2 separate regions of the Homo sapiens genome follow, and region 2 is linked to region 1. A link means that fine-mapping ties the variant in region 1 to the expression of a gene that starts in the linked region. Tissue or cell type: whole blood. Region 1 holds a variant in brackets; the other region holds the start of a gene. All regions are shown on one strand. Distances are from middle to middle.

What was found. PIP is the estimated chance that this variant, and not a neighbour inherited with it, causes the effect.
Region 2: TSPAN2 starts here. The variant in region 1 is the best candidate, but not a certain one, in a credible set for the expression of TSPAN2 in whole blood (INTERVAL, PIP 0.82).

The regions. Positions count from the first base shown.
Region 1 is chr1:115,041,573-115,044,420 of GRCh38, reverse strand. No RefSeq gene overlaps it. Among named protein-coding and RNA genes, the nearest start is that of TSHB, 13 kb to the right of the region's middle. The variant G/C (reference allele first, on the strand shown) is at 1,283.
Region 2 is chr1:115,088,276-115,090,947 of GRCh38, reverse strand. TSPAN2 (tetraspanin 2) reads left to right here and starts at 1,445. Exons shown (of 8, transcript NM_005725.6): 1 at 1,445-1,584. The coding sequence starts at 1,516.

The DNA.
Region 1 (2,848 bases):
CTTCATTGACCCATTGGTCATTGAGGAGCATGTTGTTTAATTTTCATGTATTTATTCAATTTTCAGTGTTCTTCTTGTTATTGATTTCTAGATTTTATTCCATTGCAGCCTGAATATTTGATATTATTTCAATTTTTTGAGTTTGCTAAGACTTGTTTTGTGCCCTTGCATGTTGTCTTTCCTGGAGAATGTTTTCATATGCTGGCAAGAAGAATGCGTATTCTGCAGCAGTAGGATGAGTGTTCTGAAAATGTCAGTTATGTCCATTTGGTCTAGAGTGTAGTTGACTTTTCATGTTTCTTTTTTTTAATTTTCTCTCTGTATGATCTATTTATTGGCAAAAGTTGGGTTTTGAGGTTCCCTACTATTATTGTACTGGAATCTAGCTCTCTTTTTGTGCTCTGATGTTGGGTACAATTATATTTACAATTGTTATATCCTCTTGCAGAATGATCCCTTTACCATTACATAATGACCTTCTTTGTCTCTTTTTGCAGTTTCTGACTTAAAAAGAGACAAAGTGTTGGGTCTTGTTTTTTCATTCATTCAGTCACCTTGTGTCTTTTAAATTGGAGAATTTGGTCCATGTTTACATTCAATGTAATTAATGATAGGTAAACACTACTGCCATTTTATTGTTTGTTTTCTGGTTCTTAAGTCCTTTATTTTATTCTTACTATCTTTCTCTGTGGTTATCTTCCCTGGTAATACATTTTAATTCATTGCTTTTTATTTTTACTGTATCTATTATAGGTTTTTGCTTTGTGATTGTTATGAGACAAAAAATCTTATAGTTATAATAACTTGTTTTAAACTGGTAACTTTCATCACAAAGAAAAGAAGCAAACAACCAAGTTTTTTAGTTGTTTTTAGAAGAAACTAAAAAACCCTACAATTTAACTCATCTTCCCCCACTTTTTGACTTTTTAATGTCTCCATTTTTAACTTTTTATGTTGTTTATCTCTCTCTCGCTTTTTTTTTTTGAGATGTAATCTTACTTTGTCACACAAGCTGGAGTGCAGTGGCGTGATCTCAGCTCACTGCAACCTCTGCCTCCTAGGTTCAAGCTATTCTCCTGCCTCAGCCTCCCTAGTTGCTGGGATTACAGGTGCCTGCCGCCATGCCTGGATAATTTTTTTTATATTTTTAGTACAGCCAGGGTTTCACCATGTTGGCCAGTCTGGTCTCAATCTCCTGACCTCGAGTAATCCACCCGCCTCGGCCTCCCAAAATGCTGGGATCACAGGCATGAGCTACCACACCCGCCCTTATGTTGCTTAT[G/C]TCTTAACAAATTGTTGTAGTTATTATTTTTGATAGATTTGTCTTTTAGTCTTCATACCAAAGATATGAGTGGTTTACTCACCACAGTTAATGTATGAGAATATTCTGAATTTGTGTATTTACTTTTACCAATGAGCTTTATACCTTCAGATGATTTCTTGTCACACTTTAGCATTCTATTCTTTCAGATTAAAGAACTGCCTTTAGCATCTTTTGTAAGTCAGATCTGGTGCTCATGAACTCCTTCAGCTTTTGTTTGTCTAGCAAAGTCTTTATTTCTCCTTCATGTTTGAAAGATAGCTTTTTTGGGTACAATATTCTCAGTTGAAAGTTTTTTTCCTTCAGCACTTTGAATATGTCTTCCCACTTCCTTTTGGCCTGTAAGGTTTCTGCTGAGAAGTCTGCTGCAAGACATATTGGGGCTCCTCTATATGTTATTTGCTTCAAAAGAAAAGCAGCCCTTGCTGCTTTTAGAATCCTTTCTTTATCCTTTACCTTTGAGAGCATAATCATTGTATACCTCAGGGTAGTCTCATTTGGGTTGAATGTGCTTGGTATTCTCTAACCTTCTTGTGCCTGGATATTCATAACTTTCTTTAGGTTTAGAAAGTGATCTATTATTTCTTTGAATAAACTTTCTACCCCATCTTTTTCTCTACTTCCTCTTTAGGCCAGTAACTCTTAGATATGTCCTTTTGAGGCTATCTTCCAGATCTCGTAATGTACTTCAATCTTTTTTCTTTTTTCTCCTCTGACTTTGTGTTTTCAAATAGCCTGTCTTTGAAATCACTCATTCTTTCTTCTGCTTGATCAGTTCTGCTGTTGAGACACTGTGATTATGCATTTTTCAGTTAATCAGTTGTACTTTTCAGCTACAGGATTTCTATTTCTTTTTTATTATTATTATTTCAATGTCTTTGTTAAATGTCTTTAATAAATTTCTGAATTTTTTCTGTCTGTTTTCTTAAAGTTCATTGAGCTTCCTCAAAACATCTATTTTGAATTTCCTATCTGAGATATCACATATTTCCACCACTCCAATGTTGGCCATTGACCCCTTATTTAGTCTGTTTGGTGAGGTCATATTTTCCTGAAGTTTTGTGCTGGATGCTTTTGGATGCTCATTGATGTCTTGGCATTGAAGAGTTGGGTATTTATTCCAGTCTTCATAGTCTGGCCTTGTTTATCCTCATCCTTTTTCAGAAGGCCTTCTAAGAATTCAAAGGCAGCTGAGTCTTGAGTTCAGTAAGCCTGTGTCATTACAGCTATTTCAGCACTAGAGGGTGTCCAAAGCCCAGGTACACTAAGATTCCTTACAGATTCCTGGATACCCATCCCTGATGGACTTGGAAAAAATAAGGGAAGTCCCTGGATACCCAGGAAAAGTCCCTCACTCTCTTCCCTCTCTTTCCCCCAAGCAGGAGTCCCTCTCTGGGGTTGGCCACTTGGTGTTGTGGGAGGGGTGACTCAAGCACTCTGGCCATTGCAGCTGGCAGTGCGCTGAGTTGCATCTGATACCCATGACCTCCCAAACCAGCATAGGACTAGGACACTCAAGGCCCATGG
Region 2 (2,672 bases), 47 kb before region 1:
GTGATACAATAATACTAACCCTTATGCAGTACTTAATCTGTGCCAGGCACTGTTCTAGGCACTTCACAAATACTAACTCATTTATCTTCACAACTCTATGAGGGGAGTACTATTACCTCCATGTTGCACGTGGGGACACTCGGGGCCAATGACAGTTTGGCACATTGGTCAGCCGACTGAAAGCTGTGATTTGGCTCCTGCCTTCCTGACTCACTCTGCCCCCACCAGGCTTCACTCGGGCTAACTGCGGTTCTCAGAACTCCCTTGGAGGCCTTGTTCTCTCCAGCTCTGTGCTTTTGCGCATGCTGTCTTCCTGGACTGATCTTTTCCGCCTGGGCTCCGTCTTCTAGACCAGATCAGGCCCCTCTCCTTAGCAATGCCTTTTCTGGTTAAGGCAGTCAGGCCAGGCACACCTGTCTAGCACCCAGCCCTTCTCTCCTCACCCTATTTGCTTACAGATCTGTCTCCAACACCAGAGACTGTGGTTCTGGGCCTGGCTGTCTCCTCATTGTTGAGTCCCTGGGGCTTGCTACTATGTCTGGCCTATAATAGGCACTCAAAGTTTTGCTGAATTTATGCATAAGCTCTCCGAATTTTGCTTTCTTGTCTCCCCCATACTGTCTGACACCACATATTGTAGACACTTAGTCAATGGAAGTGGGAGTCTGATTTTCCTGCCAACAGCCTAACTTAATAAAAACAAAGCAAAACAAAAACCGCCCCCTTCCCCTTTCTCCCATCTCCACATCATAATTAAGATCCCGAAAATTTGGGATCCTTCCAAGCCCTCCGATCAGTGGAACCCGGCAGGACATGAGAAGTCAGACTCCCTCCACTGGCCGGCTGGGTTGAGGGCAGCCCACAGGACTCAGGGCGCCGCCTCCCGCACCCTCTCTCAGTTCTTGCCTATTAAGGTAAGAGTCCCCCGAGGAGGGGGGAGGGGCCGGAGGGAGGGTCCCCTAGAAGCTGCTTGTGTGCTTGCTCCGCGCCGCGGAGCCGCAGCCCTGGACACTCAGTCAGGTGCCCCGCGACTGGTCCTGCCAGCTTCGGGGCAACCTCCGACCCCACTTAGCTCTTCTACCCGAGGTCACCTTCCTAGATTTCCATAGCCACGAGACCAAGTGCTTATCCCTCAAGCATCGCCCGGGCCTCAAACCGGTCTCCGCACAGGGCGCTGATTAAATGGGTCCCCAGTCCCCGGTGGGCGCTCCCGCCCTGCAGGTGCTCCGATAGCCGGCGGCGGTGCGCCCACTGGAGGGAAGGAAGGTGGTCCCTGGGTCCGGGAGAAGAGCGAACGTGCTCCCTCGGGCTGCTCGATCTCCACCCGCTGGCGCCCCCACCCGTCGCCAGCCACGCCGCTTGGGGTCCACGCGCCCCTCCCCGCCGGGCCCCGCCCCGCCCCCCGGAGGCCCCGCCCCGGTCCTCCCCGCTCCGCCCCCTCCCCGCCGGAGCCTGCCGCTCCCCGCGCTCGTAGCGCGGGCCTGGGGACTGGGGATCCCGCCGCCGGGCCGCAGCATGGGGCGCTTCCGCGGGGGCCTGCGGTGCATCAAGTACCTGCTGCTTGGCTTCAACCTGCTCTTCTGGGTGAGACCAGGAGCCGGGAGGGCCGGTCAGGGCAGGGGGCCGGGTGGCGGGCGCGGGGCCGGGGTCCCCGAGCTGCTGACTGCGGCGTCCGAGTCGCGCTCGTGGGGAGGGCTGGGTGCTCAAACGCGGAGGCGAGGAGAAGGCAAACAAAGAGGGAGGGGAGGGATGGAAGGGAGAGAACGGGAAGACAGAAGGTTGATCAATGAGAAATGGTGAGAAGGGGAGAGACACCGTGTGGCTCTTTCCTGGAAGGAACCCCCACCTGCCTTGGTTTTTATCTCCCAGCTAGTGACCCCAGGTGCGGGGACCCAGCCTCTCCTCACCTCCGGAGGACTTGGGTCCCTGTTCCCCTCCAGTCTCCCGTGCACACACCCCCTTTTCACTCTGCCTACCAGCTGGAACCAGGGCCTGGCCAGGGTGATGGGAGAGAAACCCCTGCCCTGGGGCTGCCTGGGGTGGTGCTCCATTCGAGTGTGTGGACACTGTACCTGGCTGTGATGGTTTTGTTTAGGAAATTGGAGATAGGAGTGAAAATTGTGGTGGGGGGGCGTCGTCCTTTTTCTGGGCATCAGGGTAAGAGTACCCCTGGGTGAGAGGAGGTGGTGGGTTCTCTTCTGAGAAGGGGATGGGGAATGGAAGGGCTTCTAAAGGGCAGCAGCAGCTCTCCACAACCCCCAGCCGCAGCCTCTGCTAAATACTAATTCTCCCAGAGATGATCTCATTCAACTTTGCAGGGTTTGATTGAACTGACAGCGTTCCCAGGATTCATGGTTCACAGAGAGATAGGATCTTGACCCTTGTCTCCTATATTATCGAGACAGGGATACAGCTAGACCAGACCTACATCCCTGGATACCCTGTCCCAGGGCCTGCAGGACTGTGAGACAAGGTCTGAAAATTGTCTTTTCTGCACATTTCCTCTTGGGCTTTCTTAAGAGAATGTCAGCCAGTGTAACTGCTCAGCTAGACCCTGAGGGGAAACATTGGATAAAGAGGTTTGAGAGCAGCCAGGGCCTGGGTGCTTTGAAACTACCAGGTTGGAGGAGGTGGCTGTCCTATCTGCTCTGGGGGACGTTGTCTTCCCATGA